Homo sapiens: one gene and its partners. The protein of the gene in region 3 purifies or fractionates together with the protein of the main gene of each other region. This does not show direct contact. Each region holds a gene or a part of one and is shown on either strand. Other genes may lie near its edges. The genes, in order: TBC1D4, USP29 and CTDSPL.

The links.
Region 1: the proteins of CTDSPL (region 3) and TBC1D4 purify together in Homo sapiens (affinity purification with mass spectrometry; one large-scale study listed by BioGRID and IntAct). This does not show direct contact.
Region 2: the proteins of CTDSPL (region 3) and USP29 purify together in Homo sapiens (affinity purification with western blotting, with the first as the bait; one study listed by BioGRID). This does not show direct contact.

What each region holds. Positions count from the first base shown.
Region 1 is NC_000013.11:75,363,670-75,367,169, forward strand, and holds part of TBC1D4 (TBC1 domain family member 4), read right to left. Parts: intron 1-3,500.
Region 2 is NC_000019.10:57,118,717-57,122,934, forward strand, and holds the start of USP29 (ubiquitin carboxyl-terminal hydrolase 29), read left to right. Parts: upstream 1-1,268; 5' UTR 1,269-1,513; intron 1,514-3,608; 5' UTR 3,609-3,758; intron 3,759-4,218.
Region 3 is NC_000003.12:37,868,326-37,872,059, reverse strand, and holds part of CTDSPL (CTD small phosphatase-like protein), read right to left. Parts: intron 1-3,734. UniProt on the Homo sapiens protein: Recruited by REST to neuronal genes that contain RE-1 elements, leading to neuronal gene silencing in non-neuronal cells.

The DNA of each region.
Region 1 (3,500 bases), on a different chromosome or scaffold from region 3:
ACCCTGGGGACATGTCATCAGGACTTCCTGGGGCTGTGTCACAGGTGCGCATCCTCAACCTTGGCAAAATACACTTTCTAAATTAACTGAGACCTGTCTCAGATTTTCTGGTTCACAACTCTAAAACTGAGAACAATCCAAACGTCCATCAGCAAGTGAAGAGATAAATAAAATGTGGTACATTCTATAAACCAAAAAGTATCTGAGACAGGTCTCAATCAGTTTAAAAGTTTATTTTGCCAAGGTTAAGGGCATGACCATGACACAGCCTCAGGAGGTTCTGAGAACATGTGCCCAAGGTGGTTGGGCTACAGCTTGGTTTTCTACATGTTAGGGAGACATGAGACATCAATCAGTATATGTAAGATGTACATTGGTTCGATCCACAAAGGTGGGAGAACTCAAAGGGGCAGGGTGGGGAGTGTGCATGGTGGGGGCGGTGCAGTTCCAGATCGTAGGTGGATTCAAAGATTTCCTGATTGGCAATTGGTTCCTAGAGTTTATCTCCTACTAAATTCCCTTCTACTCAGCTCCAGCCACAATGGCCTCCTTGCTATTTCTCCAACATACAAGGCACATTCCTCCCACAAGGTCTCTGAGTTCAGAGATGTTAACAGTTTATTGCCACATCCATTTAATATTTTCGGACCACAGATGACCACAGGTGACTGAAACTGTGGATAAGGAGGGGCTGTTGTAATTATTTGGGATATACTGCTAGAACATTCATAGTTTACAAATAACAAGAATTTCCGCTTGCTAGACCAAGTATTTCCTATGAAAGGATAAAATCCACATGCTATAGCTTCAGTGACTCACCCTGAACACTTGCCATGTCTCAGGGACAAAGTCAGGTATCTGTGCTAACATGTGACTAGCAACCTCAACCCTTCATCATTTTCTTACTGCCTTAGTATGTGATTTACCTTACCTGGCAAGGGCCAAAGCTATGGAGAGTGAGCTAGCTGACACTCAACCGTGCAAACCTGCAAAAAATAAAATGATTCTAGTGGGCAAAGCCCTAGGAGAATGATCTCTTCTTTCTCTCTACTTTTCATCTGATTACTAAATATTTTTAATCTGATTTTTAACCCAAAATCTTTTTGTCTGATTTCCACTAAATACTTTTCATCTAATTTTTAACCCAAGTATGCCTCCAAAAGTGTCTCTACAGAGTACGGAATCAGAAATATAGCCTGTAGCACTGATTTTACTGCAGATATTTTATCTTGTTACAAATATTTAAATGATTTACATACAACCTCAGAGTTCCATTCTACAATTGAGATTGCACATAAAGTCAATTCAACCTTAATTGTGTCAAGTCTTTTGAATTTCTCTACCGCCATATCAAGAGTTTTTACATGAAAAACTGATTTGTGGCTGAATTTCTGTAGTCTCCCAGGATCCTTCCCTGTGACTACAGGTAAAAACTCAACACCTAAATGTAATTCTGTAAGTGATCCAATTTATATAAGCAAAGTTTATCATCTTGAATTCTAAACTGAGTACATAATTTAATCTTTAATAATTTAAGATGCTAATATTACAACACAAAACTGGTTCTAGTTACCTTTACTACCTTTTCTCAGGTTATGACTAACCACAACTTGAATGACATGGGTTGCAGAGACTCTGCAAAACTAATCTAACAACAGCTCTGTTTTTTTTTTTTTTGCTTATCCTCATGTGAAACACAGAGTATAAACACTAGCATTATACAGCCCCTGACTACTCACTTAGGCCACACCAGAAGGGGCACACTGCTCATATAAGCACAGTAAAATATCCATAGCGGGGAAATGAGTGATCAGAGAATCATGAAAATCTTGTATTGAAGCATTTACTTAAGGGATTCATCAGAAACAATGCAAGAGAAATAAAATTTCTATCAAGTACTTGTACATACATACAATATTTTGGAATCATAGGATTCTCCTGTAGCATAGTGTTAACTGACATATATTTATACATACATTTACAAATATTGTTGAACGAATTTGAATCCTTCTTATATGTGTTGTATCTTTTCAATATCTCTTTCTCCTGTACCATCGTACCATAAGCTCTTAAGTGAAAGACTGAGTTGGGGGGATTTTGTTGCTTACTAGAATTCCTCCCTGTGGCCACTAGGAAAATGGTCTGGGCTCAGAAGAACTTGAATGAATGCTGACAGCAAACAGAGTCATATATATAGGAGTGAAAAACTACCTAGAACTCTGATATAAATTCTTCAGGACTGAGACAGTTTAGTAAATTCCCGTTGGTGACTCAAGAGATCTGTCACACCCAAAAATAGAAAGCAGTGGCTTCTCACTCTGCTCACCATTCACCCAAACTAGGAAGTGACGGTATGTTTCCAGAATGACTCTAAATGTTATAGAGCACCTCAAGCTACACACCCTAGCTACATATTGTAGCTACAAATAATTCCGCTGCTCAGAATCTGCCTACAACCCACAGAGCCTAATGACGATTTACACACACCAATTTAAGGCAAGATTTCTACTCAGTGGCAGCATTTAATCTATTAACACAAAACAATGATACTGAAAGAGGCTCAACCAAACTAGGGACTGACAGGTTTATATTCTATCCCCAATATTTTGCTCAAGACCTCTGGGAATAGTTGTTGCACCTCTGCCAGATAACTTCCTCAAGAGCAAAGTGAATGGGGGAACTTGATAGATGGTTGATAAGGTCTCATCGAGATCCACATTCTGTGAGTTAATTTTTGGATTAATGCCAATATAAAGGCAGGATAATGTACAATCAAGAGAGGGAAAAATCACCTTTATGATTAAACCTGAAGTAGTGTGCAAGTTGTTAAAATGATCCATTTCCATTAACACACAGGAATCAATTCAACAGAAATAAGGGTCTCATTATATTTAGAAAAAGCACAGTGCCACCTTTAGCTAGTATTTTGTTGTTACACCTTCAGTGACCTCACTAAAACAATTTAGAATCAAGTACCAAGACTCAGACATTAAAGCAATTCCTCACTCTAGACAAAAAAAAAAAAATATTGCTTCTAGATTCCTTGATGTCATGCTGTTCTTTCTCATTAATTGGTTATCATAGTTACTTAACATACTTCAAAAAACCCATTAACATTTTATAAACTACATTTTACCTGATTTCAAAATAAAACAAATTCTACAACTACCAAACACTGATGTTCAAAGACCTGAACAAACACAGGAGAAAATCTGGAGAGTGAAAAAGCACTAAGGAAAGATACCTTTGATCAGGAAGCCAGCTGGAAACTGGAGGTGGTCACGAAGAGCAATGATTTTGCCAAACTGGTGTAGTCCTCAGTATTAGCTCTAAGTTCTCTCTTTCTAAATAAGCTGGCGGTATTTTCATTGTATTTATTAAAGTCCACGTTATCACTATGCAGCCAATTATAAAACTTCCCAGGAGTAACCATTATTGCTTCAAAAGTTAAGTATTTCCTGACTCTGCAATCAGGAAATACACAGATTGTTTGGGACTAA
Region 2 (4,218 bases), on a different chromosome or scaffold from region 3:
TTTTCCAAGAATCTTCATGAATATTCCACCCCTTGGTTAAATAAATATTTAAAGGTAGCTCCAAACCCCGCTGGGCGTGATGCTCTGTGGTATGCCTGCACTTTTCTTTCTTCAGTACGTACTTATTCCCGTCGCAATGAATCTCCACACTTTGTTCTGCTCATCCATGAATTCCTTCTCACGACAGTGTCAAGAGCCTGGACACCAGTCAGGGTCGAGGCCTCACCAGCATCTTGGGGCCTCACTGGGCACAGACGCGTGAGCGCCCGGCCTGCAGACCTGACTCTGGCAGCCGCTCAGGCCCTCAGAGGGAGAGATGGAAGCTGGCAGGACGCAGTTGCTACCGCGCGGACCCGGCCCCCGACCAGCCTTGGCCCCTCGCGCGCCGGGACAGGGCCACAAATGACTGCACCTGGGCTTCGCTGGCCCAGGCACCACGCGACTCTAAGCGCGCCCAAAGCGACCCTCTGCGCAAACTACCCCCGGGGACGACGTCACCCGTGAGGTCCCGCGGCGCCTCCTCCTAAAGCTCGGCTGGGAAACCGTCCGCTTCCCCAAGACTTGGGGGCTTGTGGCCGAGTTGTTTTAGTTTTCCTGTAGGATTCACGGGTGGCTGAGGCAAACACGCTTGAAGGCCTAAGACTTTTAAGTCTCTTCCGCACCCTCTCTTCTGTCTCTTCCACCTGGAGGATGACCGCTTTTTTGGGGGTTTTGTTGTTGTTTTGAGACGGAGTCTCGCTCTGTCGCCCAGGCTGGATTGTAGTGGCGCCATCTCCGCTCACTGCAACCTCCGCCTCCCGGGTTCAAGCGATTCTCCTGCCTCAGCCTCCCGAGTAGCTGGGATTACAGGCGCCCACCACCATGCCCGGCTGATTTTTGTATTTTTAGTAGAGACGGGGTTTCGCCACGTTGGTCAGGCTAATATCAAACTCCTGACCTCAGGTGATCCGCCCTCCTCGGCCTCCCAAAGTGCTGGGATGACAGGCGTGAGCCACCGCGCCCGGCCGGGATGACTGTTATTAACAATTCCCGGCGTGGTTTCTAGCACCAGCCCACCTACCACACCCCACCTCGCTTGAGGCTGAATGGGTAACAGGATGAACCCGCCCCTGGGCTGGTTTTCTCTGAACCCTAACTCCTGCCGTTACGCCCCACCAGCTCTAGGCCAGGAACTCTATGTGCCCCGGCCACGCTAGAGCCCGTACCTAGACCCGTAGGTCGGGAGGCCTGCGCCCGGCACTGCGCAGACGCAGCGTGCTGTGCCCAGAACTCTTCTGTTCCCAGGAGAATCAGGGGAGTCGGCGCCGGAAGGGGCGGGTCCGAGCTGAGATTTCCAGAGCCATGGGAGCCGGAAGTCCAAGGAACTGTACCTCCATCATGACGACTCCGGTTACGTAAAAACATTCAAACAGAAAATGCTGGCCAGGCTCATGCCTGTAATCCCAGCACTTTGGGAGGCCGAGGCGGGAGGATCGCTTGTGCCCAGGAGTTGGAGACCAGCCTGGGCAACATAGTGAGACCCTCCCCCCACCCATCTCTACAAAAAATTTTAAAATTAGCTAGCTGAGATCATGCCACTGCACTCCAGCCTGGACAACAAAGTGAGACTATGTCTCAAAAAAATTTAAAAATTACCCACGCCTGTAGTGTCAGATAGTCAGGAGGCAGAGGTTGGAGGATGACTTGAGCCTTGGGGATCGAGGGTGTAGTGAGGTATGATCGCACCACTGCACTCCAGCCTGGGCAACAGAGCAAGACCCTGTCTCAAAAACTATATAAAAGAAAAAAGGGCTGGGTCGGTGGCTCACGCCTGTCATGCCAGCACTTTGGGAGGCCGAGGCGGGTAGATCACCTGAGGTCAGGAGTTTGAGACCAGCCTGACCAACAAGGTGAAACCCTGTCTCTACTAAAAATACAAAAATTAGCTGGCCATGATGGTGGGTGCCTGTAATCCCAGCTACTGGGGAGGCTGAGGCAGGAGAATCACTTGAACCCCAGAGGTGGAGGTTGCAGTGAGCCGAGATCACACCACTGCACTCCAGCCTGGGCGACAGAGCGAGAGACTCCGTCTCAAAAAAAAAAAAAAAAAAAAAAAAACAGAAAAAAGGCCGGGCACGGTGGCTCACTCCTGTAATTCCAGAACTTTGGGAGGCCAAGGCGGGCGGATCAGGAGTTCGAGACTGCCTGGGCAACATAGCGAAACCCCGTCTCTACTAAAAATACAAAAAATTAGCCAGGCGTGGTGGCGGGCTCCTGTAATCCCAGCTACTCAGGAGGCTTAGGCAGGAGAATCACTTGAACCCAGGAAGCAGAGGCTGCAGTGAGCCGAGATCACGCCATTAAACTCCAGCCTCGGTGACAGAGTGAGACTCCATCCCCGCTCCGCTCCCTCACCTCCCGCCAAAAAAAAAAAAGAAAATGCACTGCAATAGAAAAATAAAAGTACTACACTTTGGTCAAACAGGGTAACTACTAGAACGTAAAATGATCTTTTTGAAACTATCCACATTTGTTACACGTGTTGAAAATGTAGGATATATATGTTATATATATACTTATATATGTTATATATACTTATATATGTTATATACTTATATATGTTATGTACTTATATATTATATATACTTATATATGTTATATCTACTTATGTTATATACTTATATATGTTATATATACTTATATATGTTATACATACTTATATGTTATATATACTTATGTTATATACTTATATATGTTATATATACTTATACATGTTATACATACTTATATGTTATATATACTTATATATGTTATATATACTTATATATGCTATATATACTTATATATGCTATGTATACTTATATATGTTATATATATACTTATATGTATGTTATATATACTTATATATGTTATATATGCTTATATGTATGTTATATATGCTTATATGTTATATATACTTACATATGTTATATATACTTACATATGTTATATGTACTTACATATGTTATATATATACATATATGTTATATATATATAATTATATATATATAAAACAAAAAGCACGGTTACTACAAAGAAAACAGGTAAACATTAAGTGGAGTAAAAGTATATCCTGTTATATAAGGGACTTGAACATGTCTGGGCATGGTGGCTCAAGCCTGTAATCCCAGCACTTTGGGAGGCTGAGGCGGGTGGATTACTGGAGGTCAGGAGTTCGAGACCTGGGCAACATAGCAAGACCTTGTCTCTATTAAAAAATAGATAGATAGATAGATAGATAGATACATAGAACATCAAAAGAGGGAGAGAGAAAGCAGACAGATGTGGCAAAATATACACAATTGGTAAATTTGGGTGAAGGGAATATAAGTTATTTCTACTAATCTTGCAATTCTTATGTATATTTGCAATGATTTCTAAATAAAAGTTTTTAATTACCAATTGAAATAAAGTAAAATAAGTCACTATCTAGCCTTTTCTAGACAAATATTTTAAACTCTTACACAGAGATAAGTTAATCAAGAAACGTATTTCCTGGAAAAACCCGTGATATGGGTGGAGCCACCTGGGAATAAAAGGTCGGAACATCATAATCACTGTCAGACTCAACTTCCATCATTCTCCTCCAGGCGCTATGGAGTCTAATCCAGGCACTTTGGAAGGCTGAGGCTGGAGGATCGATTGAGGCCAGGAGTTTGGGACCACCCTGGGCAACATAGCAAGATCTCATTTCTGAAAAAAGAATTATCATCCACTCACCCAGAACAGCTCTCCAAACTGTAAGTTTCATTCAAGGTTTGCTTGTTTGGGTGATGGGATGTGTGTGTGTGTGTGTGTGTGTGTGTGTGTGTGTGTGTGTGTATGTGTGTGTGAGTGTTGGAAGGAGGGTCTGTCTAAACTTAATGCCCTAAAGATATTGTCAGATATTGTGATGAGGGGAATTTCATCTTCTACCCTTTATGAGGTTGAATTGTAAATTCGAAAATCCTGATTCTGGGTTTTTATTTTGAGGGGATAGTTTTCTGTTTTCTGTGGCATTGGATATTGGCATTTTCAGAAAAGAGCATGCATCCAAAATGAAAATGATGAAGCCTACCTGTCTTTTGAACTCAGCTCAGGGAAAAGCTGATGATCTCTAATTTTTGTGATTCCTCCTTTCATTAAATTTAAGGTCCAGTGAGGGTGAAGTTTCCCTAAAGAGGCAATAATTTATCAGCAGCAACAGGATGAAATGGAGGG
Region 3 (3,734 bases):
TGATCACACCACTGCACTCCGCTCTAGCCTGGGTGAGACAGAGCCTCAGCAAAGAAATAGTCTCAGCAGAGAAGAGGAAGATATAAAGAAAAACCAAATGGAAAATTTAGAACTAAAAAATATAATAATTGAGATAAAAATCTCAGTGGATGTGCTCAATAACAGACTAGAAGAAATAAGGAAAAAAACCCAACAAATTTGAAGACAGAACAACAGAAATTACCCAACTGAACAACATAGGGGAGAAAAGACTGAAAACCAAAAAAGCTCAGTATGGATAAATCTGTGGGACTATAACAAAAGATCTAACATTTATGTCATCATAGTCTCAGAAGGAGAAGAGAAAGAGCAGAGCTGAAAAAGTACTCAAGAAAATAATGCCTGAAAACTCCCCCAGTTTAGCAAAGACATAAACCAAGAAGCAGAATGAACTGCAAACAGAATAAGCTAAAAGAAATCCATGCCAAGACATATCATAACTAAACTTCTGAAAGCTAAAGATGGTAGGGCCACTTTGGAACACAGTTTGGCAGTTTCTTACAAAACAACAAAATACTCTTACCATACAAACCAGCAATCATGTTCCTTGGTATTTACCCTAAAGAGCTGAAAACTTAAATCTACACAAAGACCTGCACACATATGTTTATAGTAGCTTTATTCATAAGGGCTAAAACTTGGAAGCAACCAACATGCCCTTCAGTAGGTGAATGGATAAACTGTGGTACATACAGACTATGAAATATTAATCAGTATTAAAAAGAAATAAGTTAACAAGCCATGAAAAGACATGGAGGAAATGAAAATGCATATTACTAAGTGAAGGAAGCAAATCTGAAATGGCTACATACTATATGATTCCAAGTATATGACGTTCTAGAAAAGGCAAATCTATGGTGACAGTAAAAAGATCAGTGGTTGCCAGGGATTGGGCAGGGGAGAGAGAGATGAATAAGTGGAGCACAGAGGATGTTTAGGGCAATGAAATTATTCTGTATAATACTATAATGGTAGGTATATGTAATTATACATTTGTACAAACTCATAGAATATAAAACCCCAGGAGTGAACCCTTATGTTCTTGGACCTTGGGTGATAATGACATGTCAACACAGGTTTATCAATTGTAATAAATGGGCCACTCTGGTGTGGGATGTTGATAGTATGGGGAGCTATGCATCTGTGCAGTCAGGGAATATATGGAAATTCTCTGTGCTTTCTGCTCAATATGGCTGAGAACCTAAAACTGCTTTTAAAAATAAAGTATATTTTTAAAAAGTATTGAACTGAATGAAAACCAAAATTGCAAAATATCAAAATTCGTGGGACACAGCTAAGGTAGTGTTGAGAGAGAAACTTGTAGCACTAAATGCATAAATTAGGAAAGGGAGAAAGCCTCAAATCATTCATCTAAGTGCCCCTTCAAGAACCTAGAAAAAGAAGAGCAAAATAAACCCAAATAAAGCGGAAGTAAGGAAATAAAGATAAGAACAGAAATCAACAAAGTTGAAAACAGAAGCAATTTTAAAAATCAATGCAACAAAGAACTGGTTATTTGTAAAGAATAAGAAAATTGAGAAACCTCAAGCAAGATTGACACACAAAAAATAAGATGGAGGACACACATTGTCAACATCAGGAATGAAACAGGGCATAACACTACAGATTCTGCAGGCATCAAAAAGGTAATAAGGGAAAAATGCTATGAATAGCTCTATACACACAAATTTGACAACTTAGATGAAATGACTCAAATCTCAGAAAAACAAAAAACTACCCAAGTTGCCCAATCTGAAAGAGATAATTTAAATAGCTCTATAACTATTAAGAAAATTCAATCTGTAGTTTAAAAATTCCCCCCAACCCCCATCCCTCCGAAAAAACGTCCAGGCCCAGATGATTTCACTGGAAAATTCACACCAATTCTACACAATCTCTTCCAGAATACAAAAGAGAGGTAACACTGATACCAAACCAGATAAAGACAACACAAAAAAAGAAAACTGCAGACCAACATCACTTACAGACAAAAAAATCCTTAACAAAATATTAGCAAATAGAATTCATCAATATATAGAAAGAATTATACACCACAACCAAGTAAGGTTCATTCCATGGACGCAAGTCTGGTTCAATATTCAAAAATCAGTTTAATCTATCGCATTAACAGACTAAAGGAGAAAAATCACATGATTAGACTAATTGTTGCAGAAAAAGCATAAGACAAAAGTTAACATTCATTCTTGATTAAAAACTCTCAGAAAAATTGAATTAGAAGGTTACTTCCTCAACCTGTTAAAGACTTCTATTAAAAAACCTACAGCTGACATTATACTAATGATAAAATACTGAATGGTTTCCCCCTAAGACTGGGACCAAGACAAGGATGTCCATTCTCACTACTCTTGTTCGACATACTGCTAAAGTTCTAGTCAGTGCAATAAAGCAAGAAAAAGAAATAAAAGGCATACAAGTCAGAAATGAAGACATGTAAGTGTTCTTATTTGATGACACGTTTGTCTATGTGAAGGACTTCAGGGAATCTATAAAAAGCCTCTTACAACTAATAAGTGAGCTCAGCAAGGTCATAGGATACAAGATAAGTATTCAAAAATCTTTTGTATGTCTGCATGTTAGCACTGAACACGTGGGCACCAAAATAAAAAATAAATACAATTGATAGTCGCTTAAAAAATAAACACTCTACAGCATTGTAGGATAACTATGGGCAACAATACTATATAGTTTTAAATAACTAAAAGGAGGATAATAAATGCGCCCAACACAAAGAAATGATAAATGTTTGAGATGATGGATATGCTAATTACCTTGATCTGATCACTACGCAATGTGTTTATATGATTATATACCCTATAAATATGTAAAACTATGATGTATCAATTAAAATATGTATAGTTTAAAAAGAACACTCAGATGTAAATCTAATAAAATATTAATAGGACTTGTATGCTGAAAGCCTAATGGCAGAATCAAAGATCTAAATAAATAGAGAGACGTACTGTGTTCATGGATTGGAAGACTTAATCTAGAAAAGATGTCAGTTCTCCTCAAATTGATACACAGGTTTAATTAAATTCCTATCAAAATCTCAGGAAGATATTTGTAGATATAGACAAGAGTATTGTAAAATTTACATAATGTGGCAACAAAACTAGAACAGCTAAAACAATTTTGAAAAAGAACAAAAGTTGGAAGCATCAGTCTACTCTATATCATGACTTATTATTTAGCTACAGAAATCAAGATTATATAGTATAGGCAGGGGGATGGACATATAGATCAGTGGGACAAAATAAATAAACCCAGAAACAGACCCACATAAATATGCCCAACTAATTTTTGACAAAGATGCAAAAGAAATTCAAAGGAGGAAGGACAGATAACTTTTTCAACAAATGTAGCTGAAGCAACCAGACACTCAGAGACAAAAAACCAAACCAAAGTTTCACGCCTTATTAAAAAATGGACTCAGAATGGATCATGAACTTAAATTTAATGTAAAATTATAAAACTTGGAAAAAGCGTAGGAGAAAACCTTCGGGATCTAGTGCTAGGCAGAGAGTTCTTAGATTTGACACCAAAAGCACAATCAATAAAAGGAAATATTTATATATTGCACCTTATCAAAATTTAAAACTTTTGCTCTGAAAAAGGCTCTTTAGAGGATGAAAAGCCAAGCTATAGGCTAGAAGAAATACTTGCAAACCACATAT